Regions from separate parts of the Homo sapiens genome. Here all the other regions are linked to region 2. The links come from fine-mapping of genetic effects on gene expression. A gene starts in region 2. Each other region holds a variant in brackets. All regions are shown on one strand. Distances are from middle to middle. Region 1 overlaps PLEKHA2 (pleckstrin homology domain containing A2). Region 2 holds the start of PLEKHA2 (pleckstrin homology domain containing A2). Region 3 overlaps PLEKHA2 (pleckstrin homology domain containing A2).

Region 1 (4,110 bases), 27 kb before region 2:
GTTTTAGGCTGAGCGTGGTGGCTCACGCCTGTAATCCCAGCACTTTGGGAGGCTGAGGCAGGGGGATCACCTGAGGTCAGGAATTCAAGACCAGCCTGGCCAACATGGTGAAACCCCTTCTCTACTAAAAGTATTAAAAAATTAGCCGGGCATAGTGGCATGCGCCTGTAATCCCAGCTACTTGGGAGGCTGAGGCACGAGAATTGCTTGAACCCAGGAGGCGAAGGTTGCAGTGAGCCGAGATTGCGCCACTGCACTCCAGCCCGGGTGACAGAGCCAGACTCCATCTCAAAAATAAATAAATAAATAAATAAATAAATAAAGATAGGTGGTTTTATGCAGACAATGCCAGTACCTTCCTTTTTGCTCAAGAGCTCTTCTGCCACTAAGGTCCTTGAAGGAGCCAGCTCCCCAGGGGGGAAAATATATGGCTTATTCTTCTCCGTCACCAAGGAAGCAGCTGAGGTGCCCATACAGGGATGTGGCACACCTCCCACGTTAATCCTTTTTCTAGCAACAGCAGTATTTCTTGTTGAAGAAGAAATTTTTACCCATGTGACTTCTACTCCCTTCCGCCTCTTCCAGTGAGAGTCACAAAGAACACAGAAATGACCAGAAGACCCAACTATCGATCCATAAACTCACAGCATGTCAGCACTCAAAGGTCCTGTGCATACCTCTTCATTCACTACACATGAGTCCTCTAAGGCTCAACTGGGGGAAGTGACTTCCTTAGGGAGTCAAATGAAGACAGAGCTCAAACTCCTAACATCAATCTGGTGCTTTGGCAAAGTAACAGCCTGAGAAAGAAAGAAGGAAACTAACATATATTTAGAAATTATGATGCGCCAGACATGCTGCTAGGCACCTTCACATGTGGTCGCCTAATCCTAACAATCCCATTTCACAGATGAAGAAACTAAGGATGGGGCAGGTGAAGGAACCTGCCCAGGGTCACACAGGCAGCAAGCAGCGGAGCCAGTATTCAAGCCCAACCCTTCCTGATTCCCAAATCCCATGCACTTTCCTTTAGGCCCTGCCATCTCCCATGAGACATTATCTAAGAGCTGATTATCAATGAAAGGTAAATACAAAAGCAGGACCAGCAGGGTTACACCAAAAGAGGCCCAGTGTCATTGCCCAAGCTGGGCAGGGCAGGAACTTGTCCAACTGGCTCTTGGGTGCCAAACTCCAATAGACCAGAGATTCAGAGCAGAAAGGGGGAAGGAAGGAGAGATGCTGGTGCCATCTGACCTTCTCTTACAGGCCCCTGGGGTGTCCAGCAGACAGTAAAAAGCAGCTAGCAGGAGACGGAGGGAGGGGACGCCCCTGGTAATCCCAGAGCTAGGGCATGAGCTGACATTGCTGTCTGTGAGCTAAAACCATAGCTCAGCCACCAAAAGCCACGGCCATGTAGACTCACAGAAAAGAATGTGCCTGCAGAGGGGGTATAGCTCAGAGTAGACATTTGAATGTAGGAGAACGGTGTGACAGGACTGGGAAGGAGGAGCATAGCTGCCGCTGCCCCACATTCCAAAGCCCTCACCCTGACATGAGCAACCAAAGCAGGGGAGCCAAGCGAATCCCAGGCACCAGGTGACCTGGGCCGTGGCTCTACCTGCTGCTCTAGGGCCAAACACCTCTCCTCCCCTCTGCCCTGTAGGTCCACTTGCTGATGCTAACGCGGGGACACACGACACGCTGATAGCTACTCTCCCCATTCTCCAGTTCAAAGTGTGTATTTAATCTTTCCCTTCAGGAGAAGTCGATTCTATATCATCCTCTGCTGCGTGGGCTTAATGTTTTTATTCTATTACTTGGATGTCGATTTCTTGTTGACAGACACCAGTATCAGCTTTAGACAGGATAAGTTTCATTGTGTGTTAAGTCTCTCAGCCACACCCCCATTCCCTTTATTTCCGTCTTCCAACTCTGGTGACAGAGACTTAAAGACCAGGTCGGGCCGGGCGCGGTGATTCATGCCTGTAATCTCAACACTTTGGGAGGCCAAGGCGGGTGGATCACTTGAGGTCAGGAGTTCAAGACCAACCTGGCCAACATGGTGAAACCCTGTCTCTACTAAAAATACAAACATTAGCTGGG[T/A]GTGGTGGCGCACACCTTTAATCCCAGGTATCCGGGAGGCTGCGGTAGGAGAATCGCTTGAACCCAGGAGACAGAGGTTGCAGTGAGCCAAGATCACACCACTGCACTCCAGCCTGGGTGACAGAGTGAGTGAGACTCCATCTCAAAAAGAAAAAAAAAAAAAAAAAAAAGACCAGGTCAGAGGCCTGGGCTTCAGATAATCTCCCGGAGGCATTTGGGTCCCAACTCTGACTGCTGGCCACCTAAATGTTTCTAAAGCTGTAAACTCAATAAGCCAACTCCATCAGCCCTTTCTTCAATCCAGCCTCAAACTCAATGTCATTTCCCCTCCACTTTCTAATCGGTTTCCCTCTCCCCTCCCCAGCCTCTGTCAGTAATTCCACCTCCTCTCCCCAGTCAACCAGGTACTAAACTTTCAAACATTCTTCCCTCATGTAGCCTCTAAACCTGCCCCCCCACTCTCCATTCCCACCACCTCAGGCATATCAGGAAGCTCTGTGACAAATCCCCAGCCGTCATCTCCAGCTCCAGCTCTCCCCACCTCCCCATCCATCCCGATGTCCTGGCCAGAACAAACTTTCTTAACAGATAACATCTGTAGCACTTTAGAGCTCATCAAAGCATTCTCACATACATTATTTACTCTTCACAGCAACAATGTCACAGGTGGAGATCATTGATATCATTACCATATACTGTGGATGAGGACAGGAGGCTCAAAAAATGGATGTTTCCTTAATGAATATATTCATCATGTTGTCCTGTGCTCAATTGATATAACTAATAAAACTGGTCTCTGAAGCAAAATCTAATATGAACCCCTCCCCCAAACATGCAATAACCAACCTCCTTTGCCTTCGAGACACTATTTAGATAATAAATTAATAAAATGACTTTTTTTGAGACAGGGTCTTGCTCTGTAACTCAGGCTGGAGTACAGTGTCCTGATCACAGCTCACTGCAGCCTCTAACTCCTGAGCTCAAGTGATTCTCCCACCTCAGCGTCCCAAGTACCTGGGACTACAGACATATGCCACCACGATTGCCTAATTTCTTTATTTTATTTTATTTTTTGTAGAGATGGGGTCTTCCTATGTTGCCCAGGCTGGTCTCAAATTCCTGGCCTCAAGTGATCCTCCCACAGGCCTGGGATTACAGACATGAGCCACCATGTCTGGTCATACCATTCTTTGGTATATAACTAGATCTATAAATATAGAAAGAGATGTATATAATAAATACATTGAACAAATGTTGAAGGTTAAAATGTAAAGCAAAATCTAACAACAACATACCAAAGAGAAGTTTTGAGAAAACTTAGAATAGTCATCACTATGGTTTTGCAATAGTTATTTAACCTCTGCTAAGTTTCATAGCTTCTATCTGTTTAGCTGCTTGGACTTTAATACTGAGTAGTGCTAACTCTTAACACAATTCTTTCAATGTGCTACTTAGTTTTTTGTTTGTTTGTTTGGTTGGTTGGTTTTTTTTGAGATGGAGTCTCGCTCTTGTTACCCAGGCTAGAGTGCAATGGCGTGATCTCAGCTCACTGCAACCTCTGCCTCCCGGGTTCAAGCGATTCTCCTGCCTCAGCCTCCTGAGTAGCTTGCCACCATGCCCTGCTAATTATTGTACTTTTAGTAGAGACAGGGTTTCGCCATGTTGGCCAGGCTGGTCTTGAACTCCTGACCGCAGGTGATCGCCTGCCTTGGCCTCCCAGAGTACTGGGATTACAGGCGTGAGCCACCGCACCCGGCTTAGTTTTTAATTTTTTTTAATTTAGACAAAGTACATCCTGTTATAAAGATACAACTTGTTTAAAAAATATGATGGCTACAGAAAACACATAAAGCAAAATTGCAGTTTCTAATTCTACATTAAGCTCTCAAAAAGCCCACATATAATTTTAATTCTAAGCATGTTTTGACCAGGCCCAGTCAAATCCAGCAGTGAGCTCTGACTGCACACTACACTTCAGTCTCGGAGACGGAGTAAGAACCCTGTCTC
Region 2 (4,110 bases):
AGGGGCATCACCCACCTGTCCATCTGTCCCATGAATTGGACAGGAGACCAACGCTGCTTGGGTCTTCCTAGTATCCTAGCACTTCGGCAAACACTTGGCAAGGTAGTGGGAGGGCTGCTCTGGGGCTCAGCTGATAGGGCTCATCAGCCTTCCCCTTCCCACTTCTGCAGAACAAAAACCTGCACCAACCAAAACCTGCATGTCTTCAAGATTTATTTTAACCACTCAAAAATACCGAGCTGAATATGGTTCAGCTCACTACCATGACATGATGGGATCTGCAGGCCCTATTTCCTTAACACAGAAGAGAGAAGAAAGCACCAATGACAAGGAAAAAGAAAGGGTTGCAAAAACTCTTCACCAAAGGGCAGGCAGTTTCTCAATCAATACCAAGGTAATTACCAATCTGTGAAATGAGCAAGGCTCCCATTACCAGCTAGCTAAAACCCCACTAGGAGTGCCATAGACAATTTGTAGAAAGCATGCTGTAATGTACAAACAGGGTCAAAGGATACTTAGGTGTAAAGGCAACATCCGGACTAATAACTCCCATGTACCAGCTTGGAGAACCAAATCCCTACAGGTTTGAGGAACAACCACACTGCTCTTTTCTCTGCCATTTGGACAAGTGCAAACAATTCATGTGTTTGCATTCATTCATTAATGCAATAAACATTTACTTAGCACCTGGTACATGTCATACGTTGGGCTGGCCATAATCTAGACTACAAGCTAGACCTCTGATAGTGCAAAAGTCATCTGCCTTCAGGCGGCACATGGTGAAGAGGGCTAATGTCTGAGATGATGATGATGCTTTCTAAAAGCTTACTCTGGCTTCTCAAAACAAGTGGGGGGCTTACAAGTCCTGTAAGCTCGCCAAAGACAGGGTCCAGCCCTCCAGAGGTAAAGGAAAAAGAAAAAATAAAGACAGGGGTTGTGTTTTGTTCATCACTGCCTTGCATGTATAATACATGTCAACTGAATGCAACTGAAATAGAAAGCAAAAACTTCTATTCTTTCAAGATCTTTTGCTTTGCTGTTTCGGAAGGCTTCGCAACCAAAGAAAAAAAATGACAAAAGAAGGGAAAATGGGACTTGGTCAGATAGATTAAGAACACCATTAGTGCAATCTTGGGACTTCAGCCCCAAGTGCATCTACAGCTCAGCCTTCAGAGCCCCCAGAGCCACAGCTGGCTTTCTGGTGGGGTGCTCTCCCCTCCCTCTTCTCTGCCGTTTACTGTCCTCTGAAAACCCCACTTGGAGCCCTAAAGAAAGAAAGGGGGCGGGCAGGAAGAAGGAATGAGAAGGGGAAGATACATCCTGAACCTGCGTTCACCAAGAAGGAAGGAAGCCAAACCCTAAGGCTAGGGCCTGGGGGCAGGGCTGGCCCCGGGGAGGAGATGTGAGGGTGCTCCGGCCGCAGCGGGCCCTGCGCCCCTCTCTGGGCGTGCAGGGACACTTTTCCCTTCTAAACGGCCTAGCTTCCCACCACCCCCCCCCACACCCTTCTTTTCTCTTTCTTTTTAAAAAAATTTTGGTGAAATCGTCTTTAGGACTGGAGGAGAAAAGGGAAGCGTGTAAGGTGAGGAAGAAGTTGGTGAGAGAGAGAACGACAGCTCCCCTCGAGGGCTCACCCAACCTGGCACCGAACCTGCATTTTAGGGCAGTCCTTTTCACTGTCTGGAGTTCCAGAAGCCCGAAGTCCAGGCTGCACCCAGAGGAAAGGACAGGAGTCCCTAGGGGAGCCTTCTAGGCCTGTCATTTAATAAGGTAGTCGGGGGAGTGAAAGAGGAGTCTCCATGGCCCAATCCGTACCCAAGGGACTTGCCTGGGGACGTTCTCTGCTCTCCTCCCCTCCCGCAGCCCGGGCAGTCGTTGCGGGGTCGGTGCCCCAGCGCCAGAACCCGCAGAGAAGTTTCGCTGCTGCAAACGTGAGAAAATGCAGCTCAGCAGAACTCCCGCCCCCACCCTCTCCGCGGCCCCACCCCCCGCAGCCCGACCCCTGGCGGCGGCGACCTTGGCCACCCGGGGCACTTGGAGGAGGGGCTGCCCTCGGGGCTCTCCCAGAGGGTTGGAGGAGGCCTCCAGGGTCTGCGGCCACCTCCCCTCGCCTGTCAGCCACTAGGACCGGCGTATTCAGCCCTGCGCGCGCGCCCCTCGCGCCCCTAGGCCGCCAGGCCTCCGCCGGGGCGCCCCCTGCACCCCCAGCCCCGCCAGCCCCCGCGCGCCCCTCTGCGCCTCTCCACTCCCGAGCCCGCGAGGGCGCCCAACTTACCCCCCCGTGCAGGGGCCGGGGCTCGGGCGGGGCGCGTTACATCGGGCGGGGTCGCCCCTCCGGCCGCCGGGTCCGCCGCGCTCCAGGGATTTCTGGGTCTGCCTGCCAAACTCTCCGCGCCTCTCGCTCCCCTCGCTCTGGTCTCCCCCAGTGCCCCCTCCTTCTCTCCCGTCCCTCGGCTCTTTTTTCCGGGTTAATTACGTTTCGCATTAAAGCAAAACCCAGCCCCGGATGTGAGTACAATGCTCCGCGGAGCCCGCCGGGGAGGGAGAGGGGTGCCGGGGCGCCGCGGGCTGGGAGGGGGTGCGGCCGGGCGCCGGGGCCGCGCGGGGGAGGCGGGGGCGGGGCGCCCGGAGGCTGCGCCCGAGGCCGCCCGCGTTCCGCGCCTGGCAGGTGGGACCTGCGCGCCGAGACTGCCCCGCGGGGAGGCCCGGCCCCGACGCTCGCTCGGGCAGCAGGTGTCCGGGCAGGGGGCGTCCTCGCAGGAGGAGGCGAGCTGGAGCGCGAGCTCCCTCAAGAACCCCATTTCCTCCTCCCAGAGCCCCACCCAGCGACCTCAGCTGGGCCTCCTTCGGATCCCGAGCCCTTAGCCTTTGGGGACCGAGGAGTTGGGGTAAGGGTTAGGGTCCCAAGAAGAGTGGCTTCTTCAGGTTGTCCTAAATGTGCCCTAAGAGACCAGTGGGCGGGAACGCTCTAACCAGGGTTATAAGGACTTTAATTTCTTTATTTTATTTTATTTTTTAATCAAGACAGGGTCTGGCTCTGTCGCCCAGGCTGGAGTGCGGTGGCGCAGTCATAGCTCACTGCAGCCTCGACCTCCTGGGTCCAGCGATCCTTCTGCCCCAGCCTCCCGAGTAGCTGGGACCACAGGCGCCTACACCGTGCCCGTTGGGACTTTTTCGGTGTGATGCGAAGACTCCCTTCCTGCCCCCAGAGCATGAGGGTGCTCTGGGAAAAAATGGGAAACAGACAAGCATGTGTTACTACGTAAACCTCGCCAAGAGGAACTAAGAGAGCTGCTGTGCGCGGGTCCCGCCCCTGCGCTATCTCATTTGATCCACGCCGCAACCTATGGGTACCAGTCCGGTTCACGGTGAGGAAACCGAGACTCAGACTTGTGAAGTAATTTGCCCTGGGTACCCAGTTAGTAAACGGCAGGTCTGTCAGGTTCTGACTCCGGCCTCCCACGTCGGGAGAGAGACATTTGAATATGCATCAAGTCAGGTGGACAACATCCGAAACATGAAAATGTAGAAGATTCGCGCGGGCCTGCGGGGCCGTGCGCCGGTGTCTGGCGATCCTAATGCAAACGTTGTTAATCAGGTGTAAATCCTACGAGGCTTTGAAAGAGGCAGGCATAAGAAGACGCTGAGGTTCTCCAGGACAAGGACTGGATTTGCAGGAAGGAGGGAGAGGCTGGGGCACATTCCCGGTGTTAACAGAGGAAAGGCGGCCTCTTATGTCTCCACGACCGACCGGAGGCCACAAGGCCTGGGGAGGGGGGCTCGGGCCGATGAGCCAGGACCGAGGGAGAAGGACAGCCCGCCCCACACACCCCGAAAGCACCAGTGATGAAACCACACAAGTTTCCTCTTCCATTTTGATTGCCAAAGCAAAAATGAACACCGCCGGTGTCTCAGGTGTGAAAAAAGACTGTTTGCTTTAGAGCATTTTGCTTTCAATGAGGAAGAAAAGGGGGACGATGGGCAAAACACACACACACACACACACACACACACACACACACACACACACACACATTTCCCTTGAAATAAATACATCAATGTCTTTTTTTTCCCCGTTCATGGAGGGTTTTGCCACTCATCTGTAAGTTT
Region 3 (4,110 bases), 45 kb before region 2:
GCTCTAGGACTGCCTGACTCCTTGTTGCTGCATGTCACGACCTACCTAAGCTACTCTTTCTCACTTTCTGTGAGTTCTGTTATTATGTAACCACATTTTTAGGGATGTTGATTTTTAGTTGATATTTAGTGATTAAAATCACCATGGAACTGCAGAAATTTCCCCTAAATGACCCAGATGAATTCCTGAAACCCAGCAAAGAAGGAGGGAAATAACAATTTTTTTTTTTTTTTTTTTGAGATGGAGTCTTGCTCTGTCGCCCAGGCTGGAGTGCAGTGGCGCGATCTCGGCTCACTGCAATCTCCAGCTCCTGGGTTCAAGTGATTCTCCTGCCTCAGCCTCCCAAGTAGCTGGGATTACGGTGCATGCCAACATGCCCAGCTAGTTTTTATATTTTTAGTAGAGACGGGGTTTCACCATGTTAGCCAGGCTGGTCTCGAACTCCTGACCTTGTGATCCACCCGCCTCAGCCTCCCAAAGTGCTGGGATTACAGGCGTGAGCCACCGCGCCTGGCCAGAAAGTAACTTTTTAGAGTTCCCAGTGGCCAGAAAAGGAGGCACAGAAGCTTGGCTGCTGTGTTTCCTCTCAAAATCCCGAAGAACACTGTTTGTCAGTGCTTATGCTCCGGTGTCATGCAGTGCTTCAGATCAACATGCAGAGCCTTTCCAAAGCTGTTTACACTACCTGAGACTTCTTTAAGAGATGGGCTTTCACTCTGTTGCCTAGGCTGAAGTACAGTGGTGCGATCATAACTCCCTGCAGCCTCAAACTTCTGGGCTCAAGTGATCCTCCTGCCTCAGCCTCCTAAGTAGCTGGGAATACAGGTGTAAGCCACCAGGCCTGGCTAATTTTTTTATTTTTTATTTTTTTTGAGGTGGAGTTTCACTCTTGTCGCCCAGGCTGGAATGCAATGGCACGATCTCGGCTCACTGCAACCTCTGCCTCCCAGGTTCAAGTGATTCTCCTGCCTCAGCCTCCTGAGTAGCTGGGACTACAGGCGTGTGCCACCACGCCCAGCTAATTTTGTATTTTTAGTAGAGACGGGGTTTCACTATGTTGGCCACAGGTGATCCACCCACCTCGGCCTCCCAAAGTGCTGGAATTACAAGCGTGAGCCACTGCACCCAGCCATCCATCCTCTCTCTTTTCATCACTCTCTCTTTTCACGGGTTTACCAAGGTTTATCAGAATAAGAAGCTAATCAGCAAAAGTGCTTATAGGAGACTCAATTACACTCAGGTTGGGTCTAGCAATATGAATACTATATACGTGTACAAATTTCTTCTATACAGTTGTTCACAGGAACCCTGAGAAATCTGGGAGGATAATTTGCTGCAGCATGTAATAGTCACTACTGGAAGCCCCTCAAACATAAGCATTTCTGACTGTATGATACAGAAACAAACTTTTCAGCAAAGAAGCCATGATCTATATAAGCCAGGAGTCTGCCTGTCTTATTGATTAAAAGTCTAGTTTTTTCCAAAACATAGTTTCCCCTCTCCATCCTTCCTACCCTTCTTCCTTTCTTTTTCTATATCTCTAAGGAAAAAGAAAGGAATTCTTCATTAGCCAACTCAAGGAAAAAGAGCACACTCGTAGGACAGTCCATGAACGAGCTCTGTGATGCTTTTAAACAGAAGGCTTTTCTAGGACAGGGAGGCGGATGGCTTGGACTGACCCTGCAGGCAGCCTCTGAAAGTAAGAAGAGTATCCCCCAAGCTGGGAAAAAGTTCTGACTTCCCTCCCCATATGCTTTTCCCCTTACTTGAC[T/C]TTTCACAGTCACCAATCCATTTTCCAATCCTACCACATTCTGAATCAGCATCCCAGAATCACCCGAAACATGACTGATCGGGAGCCCTCCCAGGAAGCACAAAGGGGACGCTCCATGAACTTCCCCTTGAACTTGATTCAAACTCAGACTCTCAGTTCAACTTGTGTTTGGTCAGCCAAGGAAAAAGACGAGGTGGGAGAGAACTGGGTACAGACCAGGCTCCTGGGAAAGTCCCCGCTGCCATCTCAGTTTTCCCCAACCCCAACAAGGCCATAGCCTGGGAAGAGGCACTTTTACTACCACCAGAAAACAGAAGAAACCAAACTTACGGTGATCTTGCTGGCTTGGTTCAGGGCTTCAACCCAGTCCTTCATATCTTTCTGATCATTGGCTTGAAGGAAATATCTCTGAGACAGGGCATTGATAACTACAAAAGCCACAGAAAAGAAGGGAAGACATTCCTAGGTCAGAATACAAGCAATACAACAAGTCTCCACAAAGCTAAGGTGTTTGAGGGAGTGAGATGAGTGAACTCCACAAAGCAGAACAAGAAATCTCCCATGATGCTAAGTCATTTGCCTGGATATCTAGGAAGCCCCAGGCCACACCTGCTCACTCTCTTTCCCACCTTTAAAAACATCCCATTGGCCACAGGAACAACACCTGACCATGTTAACAGCAGCCTCAGTGTGCTGTTCTGCGGTGATGAGGCTGCTGGTCTGCCGTCAACAAGACACAACTGTGAACCGCATTCTGGCGGTGCTAATACATTTACTGTCATCACGGTATATACAGAATTTTGGACCCATGCTTGGTCTCCTCTGGCACAACTGGTCTGGACTGGGAGAGTTGTCTGTGGTTGGGAAATAGAACAAAGCTTTCCTGAGATCAAATCTGTGACCTTGGCCTCACTCTCAACCTGTTCTTTCCTCTGAGCATTCCATTAGGTCAACAATTTACTTCCACATTCACTATTATTACATATATATATTTTCAGATCTGATAACCACAAAACGTGAGAGTCATTTCTGAGCTTAGCTATGAAATTTGCAAGAAATAGAAGAATGAGCATGCCAAAGAAGTCTGAACAAATCTGAGGTGGGGAGACAGAATCGCTCAAGGGAATACTTTATTCTCTTAGCATAAGCTTGAACTGTAGGAGGTGAGTCTCATGGGGTAGATGCAGAATTCATCCGTTCATTCATTCATTTGACAAATATTTACTGAGCACCTACTATGCGCTAGGAAACATCTTTAAGTGCTGAGGATACCACAGTGACAAGGCAGAGGAATACCCCTGCCTTTGTGAAACTTACATTCAGAACCACCCCAGATAGGCAACAGAAACTATTTGTTAGCATTTGCTCATAGCACTTAGCACAGCTGTGAGAACATAGTAGGAGCCAAGTAACTATTTGATGATGGATTCACTGAATTCACTGACCACTTCCTGACTTGAGGCACCCATGCACGGTGACTCTGCCTCCTACACCATCCCCCAACATGTCACTATTGGGCAACTGAGACCCTTAACAGAATTCTCCTTCCTTTGTCTTATCCCCTTCCTGGCACTGCCATCTGCGTCTCCTCTGAGTCCTCCATCTTTTCTGAGCACAACATTTCTCAGCTCTAAAATAAGGTTCACAGAAACTTATAGTGGACATTTTGCACCTGCCTTGTGGCATCAAGAAAACTGAAATGCATATGGACAATTATTAAAAGAAAAAAATGTTCGAGATGATGGACATTGATATGGTTTGGATCTCTGTCCCCACCCAAATCTGTGTCCCTACCCAAATCTCATGTTCAATTGTAATCCTCAATGTTGGAGGTGGGGCCTGGTGGGAGGTGACTGGATCATGATGGGTCGTGGGGGCGGTTTCTCATGGTTTAACACCATCCCCCATGCTGTTGTGTCATAATAGTGAGTTCTTGTGAAATTTGGTTATTTAAATATGCATAGCACCTCCCCACTCTCTTTCTTGCTTCTCCTCTGGCCCCATAGAGCCTGCAGAACACTGAGCCAATTAAACCTCTTTTTTTTTTCTTTTTTTGAGGTGGAGTAGAGTGCAATGGCCTGAAATCAGCTCACTGCAACCTCCGCCTCCTGGGTTCAAGAGATTCTCCTGCCTTAGCCTCCCGAGTAGCTGGAATTACAGGTACTCACCACCACGCCCAGCTAATTTTTTTGTATTTTTAGTAGAGATGGGGTTTCACTATGTTGGCCAGGCTGGTCTCAAACTCCTGATCTCAGGTGATCTGCCCGCCTCGGCCTCCCAACGTGCTGGGATTATAGGTGTGAGCCACCAGGCCCGGGCAAACCTGTTCTCTTTTTAAA

What was found. PIP is the estimated chance that this variant, and not a neighbour inherited with it, causes the effect. A credible set is the group of variants that fine-mapping cannot tell apart.
Region 1: its variant is the best candidate, but not a certain one, in a credible set for the expression of PLEKHA2 in nasal epithelium (TOPMed, PIP 0.60).
Region 3: its variant is the best candidate, but not a certain one, in a credible set for the expression of PLEKHA2 in monocytes after R848 (Quach 2016, PIP 0.80).

Annotation. Positions count from the first base shown.
Region 1 is chr8:38,926,400-38,930,509 of GRCh38, reverse strand. The region is part of intron 2 of PLEKHA2 (pleckstrin homology domain containing A2); the gene reads right to left. Among named protein-coding and RNA genes, the nearest start is that of PLEKHA2, 27 kb to the right of the region's middle. The variant T/A (reference allele first, on the strand shown) is at 2,104.
Region 2 is chr8:38,899,611-38,903,720 of GRCh38, reverse strand. It overlaps PLEKHA2 (pleckstrin homology domain containing A2), which reads right to left and starts at 2,375. Exons shown (of 12, transcript NM_021623.2): 1 at 2,276-2,375. LOC124901937 (a long non-coding RNA gene) reads left to right here and starts at 2,276. Exons shown (of 2, transcript XR_007060893.1): 1 at 2,276-2,508; 2 at 3,025-4,110. RefSeq lists silencers at 1,704-2,373, 2,454-2,863 and enhancers at 3,464-3,713, 3,774-3,963.
Region 3 is chr8:38,944,213-38,948,322 of GRCh38, reverse strand. It overlaps PLEKHA2 (pleckstrin homology domain containing A2), which reads right to left. Exons shown (of 12, transcript NM_021623.2): 5 at 2,102-2,199. Among named protein-coding and RNA genes, the nearest start is that of HTRA4, 28 kb to the left of the region's middle. The variant T/C (reference allele first, on the strand shown) is at 1,772.